Homo sapiens: one gene and its partners. The protein of the gene in region 3 interacts with the protein of the main gene of each other region in a pairwise test. Each region holds a gene or a part of one and is shown on either strand. Other genes may lie near its edges. The genes, in order: GLIS2, ATXN10 and TWIST2.

What was found.
Region 1: the proteins of TWIST2 (region 3) and GLIS2 interact in binary tests that used the Homo sapiens proteins (3 or more experiments, as listed by UniProt).
Region 2: the proteins of TWIST2 (region 3) and ATXN10 interact in binary tests that used the Homo sapiens proteins (3 or more experiments, as listed by UniProt).

What each region holds. Positions count from the first base shown.
Region 1 is NC_000016.10:4,325,946-4,333,080, forward strand, and holds part of GLIS2 (zinc finger protein GLIS2), read left to right. Parts: intron 1-484; exon of another isoform or gene 485-549; intron 550-2,314; exon of another isoform or gene 2,315-2,395; intron 2,396-3,164; exon of another isoform or gene 3,165-3,224; intron 3,225-6,269; 5' UTR 6,270-6,335; coding exon 6,336-6,507; intron 6,508-7,135. UniProt on the Homo sapiens protein: Can act either as a transcriptional repressor or as a transcriptional activator, depending on the cell context. Acts as a repressor of the Hedgehog signaling pathway. Represses the Hedgehog-dependent expression of Wnt4.
Region 2 is NC_000022.11:45,842,776-45,845,884, forward strand, and holds the end of ATXN10 (ataxin-10), read left to right. Parts: intron 1-215; coding exon 216-403; intron 404-893; coding exon 894-896; 3' UTR 897-2,532; downstream 2,533-3,109. UniProt on the Homo sapiens protein: May play a role in the regulation of cytokinesis. May play a role in signaling by stimulating protein glycosylation. Induces neuritogenesis by activating the Ras-MAP kinase pathway and is necessary for the survival of cerebellar neurons.
Region 3 is NC_000002.12:238,906,688-238,911,158, forward strand, and holds the end of TWIST2 (twist-related protein 2), read left to right. Parts: intron 1-3,154; 3' UTR 3,155-3,847; downstream 3,848-4,471. UniProt on the Homo sapiens protein: Binds to the E-box consensus sequence 5'-CANNTG-3' as a heterodimer and inhibits transcriptional activation by MYOD1, MYOG, MEF2A and MEF2C. Also represses expression of pro-inflammatory cytokines such as TNFA and IL1B.

The DNA of each region.
Region 1 (7,135 bases), on a different chromosome or scaffold from region 3:
AAAAAAAAAAAGGCCAGACTTGGTGGCTCACGCCTGTAATCCCAGCACTTTGGGAGGCCGAGGTGGGCGGATCACGAGGTCAGGATATCGAGACCATCCTGGCTAACACGGTGAAACCCTATCTCTACTAAAAAAATACACACAAAAAAATTAGCCGGGTGTGGTGGTGGGCGCCTGTAGTCCCAGCAACTCAGGAGGCTGAGGCAGGAGAATGCTGTGAACCTGGGAGGCGGAGCTTGCAGTGAGCTGAGATCGTGCCACTGCACTCCAGCCTGGGTGACAGAGTGAGACTCCATCTCAAAAAAGAAACAAACAAAAAAAACAAAGGTGACCACATAGACTTCTGAGAGATGCATCTTGAGGCCTTGTCTCCAAGTTCTCAGCTAAATGGCCACTGCTGACCAAAAGCGCACTCGCAGGACACTCCAAGGCAAGGGGTGTTCCTCACATTGCCCTTGACAACACTGCCACGCTGGTCACTCACCTGACCCCATGCTGCTGGGAGCGGGGCAGGGATGCAGCCCCATCTTACAGAGGACCCGCTTCCTTCTGCAAAGAGACCAAGTGGTTCTCAGGGTGGGTGCACACAGCCCCCCAGTGCACCCTGCACCTCCACAGGCTTAGGGCCTGCCAGCCACCCTCCCCCAAGCAGGAAAGGAGGAGCTTTTTTTGTTGTTTTTTGAGACAGGCCGGAGTGCAGTGGTGTGATCTCGGCTTACTGCAGCCTCAAACTCCCCAGGCTCAGGCGATCCTCCCACCTCAGCCTCCCGAGTAGCTGGGACCACAGGTCCCTGCTTCCACGCCCAGCTATTTTTTTTTTTTTTTTTTTTTCCGAGATGGAGTCTCACTCCGTCGCCCAGGCTGGAGTGCAGTGGCGCGATCTCAGCTCACTGCAACTTCTGCCTCCCTGGTTCAAGCGATTCTCCTGCCTCAGCCTCCCGGGTAGCTGGAATTACAGACACCTGCCACCACGCCCGGCTAATTTTCGTATTTTTAGTAGAGAGAGCGTTTCGCCATGTTGGCCAGGCTGGTCTGGAACTCCTGACCTCAGGTGGTCCGCCCTCGGCCTCCCAAAGTGCTGGGATTACAGGCATGAGCCACCGTGCCCGGCCACCGGCTGATTTTTTTACTTCAAACGGGATTTTTCCATGTTGCCCAGGCTGGTGTAGAACTCCTGCACTCAAGGGATTCTCCTGCCTCGGCCTCCCAATGTGCTGGGCTTACAGGCGTCAGCCACCGCGCCTGGCCTAGAAGGAGCTTTATTCAGAGCAGGACTCCAACCAGCTCCCTATTAGCCTAGTGATCTCAAGCCTCAGTTTCCCCATCTGTGAGATCGGGAAAATGACAGCAGCTACTGCCAGGCAGGGTTGTAGAGGGGTCATTGAATCCATGGACAGATGGGCCTGACACGTGGTCAGTACCTAATGGTCCTTTACCCCCTCTGGTGTATGACCCACCCCAGGCCAAGGGGCCCTGGAAGAGACTGTCTTTTCCGGGCCTTAGTTTCCCTGAGTGTGCTGGGTCGCCCCGTGCCTTCCAGTAGGGAGGGTGGGGACAGTGGCCGGCCCCGCCTGCCAGGGCGGGATCCTTGGCTACCTGGCCTGGCCGGGGACTGCGGGCGGGGGGCCGGGTGGCTCCGCCAGCGCTGCAGCTGGGGGCCGTCTGCTCGGGCTGCGGTCGGGCACACAATAGCAGCCATTGTCTCGGCCAGGGTGGCGGGGGGCCCGCCCAGCCCACCCTCCGGGTGACCCCCGCCCTGCGGTGGGTGGGAAGGGCAGGGCCCGGTCCCCCGAAGCCCCCGCCGTCCCGGTGGTCCCCGCGGCCGCCCCCGCGCGCTTCCTCCCTCGCCGCAGCCGCTTCCTCCCGCTCGCCCCGCTCTAATTAGTTCCTTTTGCAGCTGGAGGAGCCGCGCAGCGGCCGGTTCCGCGGCCACCCCCACCCCCCACCGACAACCCCAGCCCTCGCCCCAACCCCTGGGCCCTTGCGTGTGGGGGCGCTGCCCTGGGCGCATCCCAGGCTGAGTGCTCGAGAGACGCGGCCCTGGGCTCTGTGCACCCTCCACGCTGCGCTGTCCCACCGGGGGGAAACTGAGGAACGGAAGGCTCCACCAGGAGGCGCAGAGGGGCGTGGGGCCGGCGGGCCTTGCGCTGCGCCCGGGGAGCATCCACGGGGTGCCCCCACCTGACCGAGAGCCGGCTCCTGCCCTCGGGACCCCGCAGTAATTAGCACCCAGGCCTCTGGCTGAGCTTGTCCAGAGCCAGGCTGTCGGCCTTACGCTGGGGAGAGCCACGGCCACCCGCTCATGGGCACTCACTCAGGGTTCCCTGGTTGCAGGCCCGCTGCTCCCCGCTCTGGGCCTCCGAGGCTTTCAGGAGAGCAGGAACCTAGCTCTCGCCTGCCCCCTTCACCCAGCCGGGAACAAAAGCACAGAGCAGAGCCCAGAACTGGCTGCTGCCGGTCGGGGCGGGGGTGGAAGGGGAGGCTTTAAGCCTGGCCAAGGTCAGAACTGAAGCAGGGTCACTGACCGTCTCCCCTCTGGGGTGGGGCCTCCATTGGAGGAAAAACTCTGGGTGGGGAGGGCCTGGAACAGGGATGCTGGGAGGTGTAGGGCTGGGGGCAGCTCCTTCCTTTCCCGGGGGCAGGGACGCAGGCCGTGTGCCGGGCTCTGGCCTGCATTGGAATGAACCCCTGCCTCCCTGGCAGGACCCAGTGGCAGGAAGTGTGTGGGGGTGCCCCTGGGGACTGGACCTGCTGATGAAGGGGGTGCATTGGAGTCCTCCCTCTGGCTTTGGGCCGTGTGGCTGGCCCCACCTGGGGAGACAGGCTCCTCCTGGGGAAGTGTCCCCTGCAGGCCCTAAGAACAAGGTGACTCAGGGCCCCTGGCTCCCCGAGTCCCCATCTGTCCTGGGAAGGCAGTGGGGCAGGTGCCAAAGGATGTTGCTTGGGCAGCGCTGCCAGTGAGTGTCCCCGTCAGCTGGAATTCCCAGTTCCCAAACCATCCTGCCCTTGTGGTCCCCTTCTCCGGAAGGGTGGGGGTGGGGGTGAGGACAGAGGCTGTGGGGAGGCCTGTGGCCCCAGGCCAGCCAAGGGACCAGGCCACCAGCCCTTCCTGGCTCCTGAATTCTTCATCAGCATAAATATTTACTTCCTTCCTCCCCGTCCAGGCTTCCAGCACAGAGGAGCTTCGGGGAGGCTGGATTGCGCCTGTGTCTAAAAATAAACAGGTAGCAGGACGATAGACACACAGATAGACAGATGGAACTGGCAGGGGTTCAGGCAGAGGGCAACTCCCTGTCCAGCCAGAGAAACAGTGGAGGGGACCCTGGTCCATCCATCACTGTCACCCACCCACCTGCTAGCGGGGGTGTGGTCCCTACCCCACCGCATCTCTGGGAGCCCCTGGCCCATGCATGGCCTGGGAGGCAAATTCAAACAATCTGACAGCTCCAACAGGGGCGAATCGCAGACCTAGGTCCCACGGCCTAGTGCAGCTGCCCTGGCTCTGATGATGCAGCCTTGGGAGAGGTGGGCAGCCCCCCTGTGCTGAGACCCCCGTGTCAGCCATGTTGGGGTGGGGTCTGGGGATGTGTCCCTAGAAGCAGAGGATCTCCAGTGAAGGGGGGACCATTTTATGCCCTACTTGCTTGGAGAGTCAGGGCAGAAGGGGAGGACGTGGGAGCTGCCTTCCTGTCCTGCCCTGTGGACAGCATCTCTCCCCACTCACAGGCTATGCTAGCCCCCAGGGAAACACACGGGGGCATATCCAAAGTATTTCACCATGTAGTAGTTATGTCCACCATGGCCGCCCTTTGGTATTGAGTAAAGACCCCAATACCGCGAAAGACGGGATCTCACAGCGTGATTGTGCGGCAGTTAGATTTTCAAGTTGTAATAATCCCAATGAACAAACGCAAGGAAATGTCGTGTTTAACCGCGTAGGAAAAGATTGCTGCTCTGAATGTGAAGTTTGGGTTTAGAATGAAGTGTTGACCTTGTTCTTGGGTCGGTGGATACTGTTAGATCATTTGCATGTGAGGAAAATTACACCAGGTGGGGCGAGGTGGCTCACACCTGTAATCACAGCACTTTGGGAGGCCGAGGTGGGCAGATCACCTGAGGTCAGGAGTTTGAGACCAGCCTGGCCAACATGGTGAAACGCTGTCGCTACTAAAAATAGAAAAATTAGCTGGGTGTGATGGTGTACACCTGTAATCCCAGCTACTTGGGAGGCTGAGGCAGGACAATCGCTTGAACTCGGGAGGCAGAGGTTGCAGTGAGCCCAGATCACACCACTGCACTCCAGCCTGGGTGACTGAGAGACTCCATTTCCAAAAAGAAAATGAAAATTAAACCAGTGAGAAATTCTAAGAAAAATGATGAAAATTACAGCATGGGAAGTGATACTAAAAGAATACCATCTCCAGTAAAAAATAATTTCTACATATTTATATATTAACCGCCAGATACAGCTGGTCAACTCCACCAACCCTGCCCCAGCTGGCCAGGCCAGGCCACAATCCCCAGCTGCCCCCTGGTGGCGACCCAGCGCCCTGGGGCTCCCTGGCTTGCGATGCCTCTCCTCTAGGCCTCTGCAGGGAGGGCGGTGGGGCCCCTGGCTGTGCCCACTTTCTCGGTTTGCCTGGTGCGAGTTCCTTGGTGGTGAGCGTGGCTACCTGCCGGCCATTTCAGAGGATGCTCCTTGCCCCCTGGCCTGGTTCTAGATCTTTGGGGTCAAACAGGGCGGGAGTCCGGAGCATGGCTCCTGCTCTGTCAGAAAAGGCTGTTAGGACACGGCTAGCCAGTTCCCGGGAGATCTGGCTTCAGGCCTTGAATCTTGTTGGGAACAGGCCCCCCAAAATCTGGCTGTAAACTAGCCCCAAAACTGGCCATAAATAAAATCTCTGCAGCGCTGTGACATGTTCATGATGGCCATGACGCCCACGCTGGAAGGTTGTAGGTTTACCAGAATGAGGGCAAGGAACACCTGGCCCACCCAGGGCGGAAAAACTGCTTAAAAGCGTTTGGCTTTTTGTTTGTTTGTTTGTTTTTGAGACGGAGTCTTGCTCTGTCGCCCAGGCTGGAGTGCAGTGGTGCGATCTCGGCTCACTGCAAGCTCTGCGTCCCGGGTTCACACCATTCTCCTGCCTCAGCCTCCCGAGTAGCTGGGACTACAGGCGCCCGCCACCACACCTGGCTAATTTTTTTTTTTGTTATTTAATAGAGTTGGGGTTTCAGCGTGTTAGCCAGGATGGTCTCTATCTCCTGACCTCGTGATCTCCCCGCCTTGGCCTCCCAAAGTGCTGGGATTACAGGTGTGAGTTACTGCGCCCGGCCACAGGCGTTCTTGAACCACAAACAATGGCATGAGTGATCTGTGCCTTAAGGACACGCTCCTGCTGCAGATAACTAGCCAGACCCATCCCTTTATTTCCCATAAGGAATACTTTCAGTTAGTCTATAATCTATAGAAACTATGCTAATGACTGGCTTGCTGTCAATAAATACGTGGGTAAATCTCTGTTCAAGGCTCTCAGCTCTGAAGGCTGTGAGACCCCTGATTTCCCACCCCACACCGCTATATTTCTGCGTATGTGTCTTTAATTCCTCTAGCGCCGCCGGATTAGTCTCCCGACCGAGCTGGTCTTGGCAAATCTGATAGTTTTTCCACTTCTGAGCTCTGCGATCTGAGGCGATGCCTGTAAAAGACGCAGTTTCGCCAAGCGTGGTGGCTCAGGCATGTAGTCCCAGCGTTTTGGGAGGCCAAGGCAGGAGGATCGCTTGAGGCCAGGAGTTCGAGATCAGTTTGGGCAACATGGAGAGACCCGATCTCTACAAAAAAGAAAATTTTTTTTTTTAATTAGCCAGGAGCGGTGCCTGCCTGTAGTCCCAGCTACCAGGGAGGCTGAGGTGGGAGGATCGCTTGAGCCTAGGAGGTCGAGGCTGCAGTGAGCTATGATTGTGCCACTTGCACTCCAGCCTGAGTGACAGAGCGAGACTCTGTCAGCAAATAAAATTCAGTTTCATGGCAAAATGAAGAATGTGAGCTTTGTCTTCCCCAAGAGACTCATGGGAAGCAGATGCGGAATCTCTGAGGAGGCTGTTGGCTCTCCCCCCATGATAGCTGCCGGCCAGGTCGCTCGGAGGGTCTCCCTACCCAGGAGACAACCTCACACTGCCCCCTGCTCCTGCTCCTGTTAGACTGTCATGAGTACAGCCCGAGGAGAAGCCTGGGGTCTCAGTGCCACAGCACAGCTCCTGTCCTTCCCCAGGTTCCTGCGTGAAGACCAGCTGGGAGCCCACTGCCTGCTGCCACCTCCAACTCCGGCCCCCTCACCATGCACTCCCTGGACGAGCCGCTCGACCTGAAGCTGAGTATCACCAAGCTCCGGGCGGCAAGAGAGAAGCGGGAGAGGACGCTGGGTGTGGTCCGGCCCCGTGCTCTGCACAGGGAGCTGGGCCTGGTGGATGACAGCCCCACACCTGGCTCTCCAGGCTCCCCGCCCTCAGGTACTGGCCCTGGGCAGGGCAGGGGGACTTAGCCCTGATCCAGTCATGGTGACAGGGAGAATGGCCAAGTGTGTCCACCAGCATGTAGCTGCAGCCCCTCTCGGCTTCCGGTTCATGGGAAGCCCGCACGCTTGTCCTTCCATCCGCCCAGCATCGTATGTCTGCAGGGAGGTGGGAGCTGCAGTGCCCAGCTCACGTGGCTGGCACACGATGCAAACTGAGGCCTCTAGGCAGATCTGGAACAGAGCTGGTCGGGCAACCAGGCATTCAGAAGGAGCGGCAGTAGTCCCAGGACCTGCACCCTAGGCTGTGGGGTGGTGCCGCTGGCCAACCTGGGCAGTAGAGGCTGGGTCTGAGCCCAGGAGGTGCCTCTCAGGGATTCCCGGTGCTTGGGCCCAGGGTGGTGGGCACCACTTCTGCCCTGCCTCCAAGAGCAGAGTCACCCGAAAACCAGATTCACCGCTTGTCTGAAGGGGAAGGCTATGGGAGCAGCCCAGCCCGAACCTGCCACTTTACAGAAGGGAACACTGAGGCAGGAAGGGGCCTGGGAAAAGCTAGAAAGGTTCCTACCTGCCCGTCTGACAGGGACCCAGGGGCCCTGGGTTCGAGTCCTGTTCTGTTATTAACC
Region 2 (3,109 bases), on a different chromosome or scaffold from region 3:
CACATGCTGGATGTACATGTGCATATGCCTGCGTTGCCTCTTTTTAATGTGTTTGCACTTGAGATGCATATTCAGAGAATGCATCCTCAAGAAAACTTGTGGATTGATACTGGATGTTCCGTGTTTCTGTGCTCCTCTACTCCTTTTCTGATAATTCTTATGTGAAGTTATCAAACAGGAAAGTACGTTGTCACATTCCTTCACTCTGGCTCCAGTTCTGACCCAGTGGGTGATATATGCCATCCGAAACCTTACCGAAGACAACAGCCAAAACCAAGATTTGATTGCAAAGATGGAGGAACAGGGGCTGGCAGATGCATCCCTACTTAAAAAAGTGGGTTTTGAAGTTGAAAAGAAAGGCGAAAAGCTGATCCTGAAATCTACTAGAGACACCCCTAAGCCAGTAAGTACCCTCGAGGGAACTGTCCTTCCCTTTGGTTTGTAGAAAGCTGTTTCCACTTCCCCATTGCTTCAAGCACGAGGCTCTTTGTAAGAATATGGATGGGAGAATTGTGCCCTCTATAGTGGTTTACCGAGGAAAGCCCTAAAGATAGCTGCAAACGGTTTTTTTGTTCCGGCTTTATGCTGCCATTTTCTTAAAAGAGGGACAATTTCAAACTCATTCTGGGTGAGAAATACAAAAGGCATATCAAAAGTTATACATGGTCTAAAAGTAAGTTACTCATAGGAATTAGATTTTCTTTAAAAGATAGTTAATGTTCACTATAGTTTAAAAAACAGAACTCCTTGAATAATATTGCATGAATTGTTTTAGGTTTCTCTAAGTTATTTGTCACCACTGACCAAAGTTCTGGGTTTTTTCCCCTTTTGTCTGATGAATCTTGTGAACAGATTTGCTACATCTGCAATTTTGTTTCTTTCTTCTTCTTTAGTGAATGAACTACATCCAAATACCTGAATTTTTGGAATCTGTTTCATGGATTTTTCATCTTCTACCGTATGTGAAATTGCAAGTGTTTGAAGATTTATAAGTACAAATTTGGGAACATACAAATCTTTTAGGTAGTAGAGTTTAACGTGTATAAGCTAAAAGTGAAAGTAACTGAGTGTTCTCTTGTTTCTTTGCATTAATGTAACTGTGTGGTTTGCCTTTGTCCCCCTGGATAGAACGTGCATTTAAAGAATATATTGTACTTACTGTGACAGCAGATAATAAACCAGTCTCTTGGAGGGCACAACCCTTATTTGACAAAACTTGGATGTTGGCTTGACTGTGTTTGTCCCTTCAGATGGCAAGTCAGCATCATTCTTTATATTCCTCTTCTCATTGGGTTTTCTGAACTCTGGCAGGCGGTTGAAGTAGTTTCTCACTGTGATTAATTCTAGCAATCTCTTTTCACCCCTCTGCCTTTCCAAAACATTGACAAGACTCATTTCCAGTTAATTAATTCGAGAACCCTCCCTCTTCATTTTGGGTACTGGGCTGTCTTGTCACTGAGCCCTATCCCTTTGGAATGTGGCAGGGAGTGAGGTTGGTGAGAGAACATGTGGGCACTTAACTCTTCATGTTCCAGTTCATCCCAGAAGTAGACATCCCAGGACCCATTCTGTGTCAAGGTGAATGCCTGTGTCCTCCCCAGCTTCATGCCTCTGTCATGGGGGAAGGAATAGCTTATGTTCTGCTCTGGTGCAGTGCCGTAGATTAAAGGTACATTTCTATCTTCTTTGATTTAAAAAGCACCAGTCTCATAAAGGTGCCACTCAGTTTTAGCCATGTCTTCACTGAAATTGCAAAAGTACTTTTAGGGAGCAGGAGTTTATTTGACATCTAGTTATCTGTCTGTCTGTTCATCTATCTATCTGTCTGCTGTATGAGAGGTAGGACTGGATTAAATGACCACTGAACTCACTGAATCCAGATCATTCATATCATCAACAAAAGCTCTAGGGGGAGGTCACGTTGTGAATGCTTAAAACATATTATTTTCTTCAACAACCATATCGCTAAACTAATATATCCAGAGATTTTGCACAATTCGTGTTGAACCTTCCAAAACAAAAATAAAGACCTGTCCAAAAGTTTTGACAAAAATACTGATTGCTCCCAAATAAAGTGCTTCTAAGCTTTGTGTAGACATAGTTTAACTGATTTGTAAAAATAGCTTAAGCATGTTGAGAATGAAGTAAAAGTTTTCCCATGTGCTGTCTAATGTACTCTGTGTAACTCTGAAGACACATCAGCTTCTAGGATTGCAGCAATCTATGAATAACATTTTTTCTCTCATTTATGACTTTCCATCAGTAAAGAAGCCATTGCAGAATTTAAAATTACACAAAGGAGTCATTCTCTCCTGGGACATAAAGAGTTAAAGCTCTGTCCTCTAAATAGAAGCCTGGCCAAAGGGAGAAAACAGTGGGAGTCCCTTTTCCCTTTTAACAAGTTTGCAATAGACACTTCTTTTTTTCCTGTCTCAATGGATGTGTGCACACCAGTGGAATCGCACAAACTTGTCGGTATGAGCTATATAATAACAAACACAAATAAATAAAAGGGAGCCTTGTGAGAATACAGAATGGGGTAATGGTTATGTGTTTTCTAAGTAGGAAGTGTGGGGCTTGCATAGTGAAAACATGCTGATGACTGCATTGTGGCTGCCTTTGATTCCCTCGGATGGATTAATTCTTGAGCACAACAGCTTCCCTGTCCTCTACCGTGGAGGACTCGGAGCTCCTGAGAACCTTGTTTTACATGCTATAGAGGATTAATCATCACCTCAATCAGTCATTTAGAAGGAAGAAAAAAGCAGGCCAGCCTTACAAAATTTGTAAAGAGACAGAATGGTCACAGCAAGTTTTGTGACCATATTATTGCTTTCAAGAGCGAGCTGACAAAGCTTTTAGCTGGCTTCACTTTAAAAGATAGAGGGGAAGGCTTCTCAGCTTGATACTGAGTCCAAGTATTTGCAGAGTGATTATTTTTTAATACCTTAACAATGGATGTGAAGATTTCAAAAATACTTATTTTTGCAATCTTAAAACAGTCGGCTCTCTGTATCCACAGATTGAACCAACTGGGGATTGAAAATACTCAGGAAAAATAAAATAGTAGTACAACAACAAAAAATAATACAAATTTTAAAATACAAGG
Region 3 (4,471 bases):
GTCACCCGTCCCTCCAGCTTCCACATCCTCCCCCCAGTGCCTGGGGCCTCCCTGGACCTCCTTCCCTGTGGCAGAATCCTCACGGTGACCCCTCTCCTGGCGGCCGCCTTGGGGAGCCCATGCCTGCCTCTGGGCTGACACCCACCCCTCCCACCACGCTCAGCCGCTCTGCGGGAGGAGGGTCTCGTTGCGCTGGTTTGCCCCTTGGCTCAGGGGAGTTCTCCAATAATTCTCGCTGAACACTCACCTCCCGCGAGCTCTGCAGGTCAACTGGCTGTTCTCATGTTTGTGCAAGAGGTGTGGGAGTGAGCACTTACACGGCCAGGCCCTGTGGTGAGCAGTAAAGGTCCCAGGTCGCAGGGCCAGTCTTCAGCGATCCCTGCTAGAGCTCAGGTCTCCTGGCAGGACAGCAACACAGCCTGGGGGCTGCTGCAGGCTGGCCTGGGTGTGTGGCAGAAGCGGCCCTGAGGCGCGGCGCGGGGCCCACCTGTGTTCGCCACACTCCCGACCAGGTGCTGATGCCAGTGGCGTGTCCCCTGCCCTGTGGGCCCCACTGAGGTGGCCCAAGACCTTGGGCTTATGACACCACATCCCTGTACACCCTGGGTCTCAGACGCTGGCCCCGGCCACCTCTCAGCACCTTCTCTTTGAGCTTGGCAGGCACAGAGGGAGGCGCGGGATTGGGGTCCCCACCCCGGCTTCCTGGAGGACCTGGACTTTCCTCCTGCCTGTGTCTCCTCCCCCTGCAGGTGGGAACCAGGCTCTGGGTAGCGCCTGAGCGGGTTCTTTCCCCAAGGCGCTCCCGGGACAGCTGGTTGCAGCCCCAGAGCTGCACCAAGCCTGGCACACCCACAGTTTGATTGGCCCACAAGTGCGCTTAGAAGTCACTTGTGTGGCATGAGGGGACCTTGTGGGGCTGGAAGAATTGTGTGTCTTGATCATAGTGGGGGGTGCAAGAAACAACACGCATGATGAAACTGCAGGAAGTACACATACACCACTCACACACACACACAAATGCACACAATACACACACAAACACACACATAAACGCACACAACACACACACAAAAACACACAAACACTCCACATACCCACTTACACACATAAACACACACCACGCGCCACACAAATATACCACACACTACACACACACCCCCACACTGTACATACACACCACATACACACACACCACACAAACACACTACACCCCCACTTACAAACACACACCACCTACACCACACACAAACACACATCACATGGCACACAAACATACCACACACTACACACACACCCCACATTGTACATACGCACCACATACACAAACACATACCACACAAACACACCACACCCCCACATACACACACAAAGTCACGCCACATACACCACACACCATACAAACATACCACACACACAGACATACCACATACACATACACATAGATACCATACCATACACACTACCCACTACATACCACATATACATACCCCACACCACACACACATACACACGCCACACTGTACACATATACCCCCCATACAAAATACAATCCCCCAAACACACACCACATACACCATGCACCATACATACCACACACTACACACACACTTCACACTGTACATAGACACCACATACACACACATACCACACACACAAACACACCACACCCCACATACACACAAACACAAACCACATGCACCACACACCACACAAACATACCACACACTGCACACACCACACATACCACATACACACACATGCACACACATACAACATACCATGTACACTACACACTATATACCACACATACATACCCCACACCACACACACCCACACGAGTGACATGTGAATAAGCTCTTGGTCCATACTGGTGCCAGATGCCTGGGTGTGACGTGACGACACCACTGTATGTGTGGCATATAATGTGGTATATAATATACCATATGGTATGTTGTCTGTGTGGATATGTATGTGGTATGTTTGTGCAGTGTGTGGGGTGTGTGTAGTATGCAGTGTGTTTGTGCTGTGCAGTGTGTGTGTGGGTATGTGGGGATGTGGTGTGTTTGTGTGTGGTATGTGTTTGTGTATGAGGTGTGTATGGACAGTGGGATGCGTGTGTAGTGTGCGGTATGTTTGTGTGGTGTGTGGTGTGTGTGATGTGTTTGTGTGTGGGAGGGTGTGGTGTGTTTGTGTGGTGTGTGGTGGTGTATGTAGTGTGTTTGTGTATGTGGCAGTGTGGTGTGTTTGTGTGTGTGGTATTTGTATGTGGTGTGTATGTACAGTGCGGGGTGTGTGTAGTGTGTAGTATGTTTGTGTGGTGTGTGTGTGTATGTGGAGGTGTGGTGTATTCGTGGTTGTGGTATGTGTATGTGGTGTGTATGTAGTGTGGGGTGTGTGTAGTGTGTGGTATGTTTGGTGTGTGTGTATGTGGGGTGGGGTGTGTTCGTGGGTGTGGTATGTGTATGTGGTGTGTAGTGTGGGGTGTGTGTAGTGTGTGGTATGTTTGGTGTGTGTGTGTATGTGGGGTGGGGTGTGTTCGTGGGTGTGGTATGTGTGGAAACTGGGTGAAAGGCACATGGGACATCTCTGTGTTGTCTTTGCAACTTCCCGTGTGTCTGCAATTGTTTTGAAAGCACGCATTTTAAAGCAAGAATCCGCCGTTGACAGCTCCCGCCAGCGGCTGACCCATTTCTCTGCGTCCTCCTCGCTGGAACCCAGCCCTCTGCTGCCCGAAACCCCACAGCTCCCTCGGGCCTGCACGGGGCCAACGTGCCGAGCCTCTCTTGTCCCCAGGCAGCCTGTTCTGAGGGGCTCACCCACAGCCAGACCGCATTCATGGCTGCGCTGAGCACGGGCCAGGGAGAGGCCCCGGGGTGGTGAGTGTGAGAAAGGGCACTCGGGGGCAGGAAAGGGCACTCGGGGGAGGGAAAGGGCTTGGCCTGGCCCAGGGGGCAGGGGTTGCGGAAGCCTGGGCTGGCCCCGTAGCAGTCACCTGCCCAGTGTCTTTTGGGAGGAACATGAGTAGAACAGAGCCAGCTCTCTCAGGGCCTGCCCCGTGTCCCGTCCCACCCAGCCTTGGGACAGTCTCAGGACGATCCTGCAGGAGGCCGAGCGAGGCGGCCGTAGCTCACGGTCCCCCTTCCGTATCTTCCAGGCTGTCCGTCGCGTCGGCGGCGCAAGTGGAATTGGGATGCATTCGAGTCTGTAACTTCTGAAACCTGAACAACCTCAGGAGGCCCCCACCTCTGCCCTCCACCAGCGTCGAGAGAAGGGACAGCAGTGACATCGGACAGAAGACCCGGGCTCCCGTCCTCCCCCAGGACGGTCCCCACATAGGAAGGGCACTCCCAGCCCTCTTGCTGGTGACATTGTCATGGTCATCTTGTTTCTGTTTGGATTTTTCTTCTGGGTCTTATGTTTGGGGGGAGGTTTATTCTTTCTGAAAATGTCTAGATTCAGGAACACATTTATGAGGATTTGGATTTTGAATTTGTATTTCCCTCTAAGTGCCTTTTTTAATGTCTATTTTTTTAATAAAACAGAAATGCATTCTTGTACAATTCTGTTGAAACTGGACCAAGGCTCTCAGAAGAGGACCCCCGAGTTCCTTCCCCTCCCCCGAGCCTCTGCATGATTGTTTCAAGTCAGCCTGGAATTCTTACTTTCACGCCGCTATTCTTTTCCTTTCTCCGTGATTGCTTGGCTAGCCATTTAAAAAAAAATATTCTCTGTTCAGTGTATATGTTGCTTGTTTGTTTTATTTATTGAGATATTTTTACAAGCTAAGTGACTGCAGTGTGGCTGTGTATCCTGCTCCCCACCCAGGAAAAATAAAGACGTCCGCGCAGCCATGGTCTCCCCATCTCTGTTCTCATCTCTACTTCGCAGCTCAGGGCTCTGCCTGAGAGAGTCAGAACAGGTTGCAAGAATCACTATTACTTCACTTTAAAAGGCACGAGAGAGGATGTGAGACATTTTATGCTGTGCATGTTTGTAGAAATTTCTAGAAACTACCAACTCTAACATGGTTGCCAGTGTGAACAGACCGAGGCCTGGGAGAGCAGAGGGGGCCTCAGCCCTTTCCCAGTGCCTAGTCCTCTGCTGCTCCCCAGCAGCCTCAGCACAAGAGACCATTGCTGTCACACCCACGCCCCGCTCTTGATACAGAAGCGTGCCCATTCTGTGAGCCACCCCTGCTGTCCAAAGTCCGGGCCAGCCTTCCCTGCTGCTCACCCTGGGTGGTATTCCCTGCTCTCCCAAGCATGGCATTCATTTGTGCCACCACCTCCCTGCTTCTCTGAACGAGTCACCGTCTGCTCCACATGCATCCGTGCCATGTTGACCATGAGCTCACCAGGCAGCTGGCTAAGAATGGAGCACCTGGGTGTGCAGGTTAGGTTGGCATCCTGCCCAGAAATCCCAGAAGGAACATGATCTGCCATCAAGGAGAGTCAGCCTGGGTCTGGTGCAG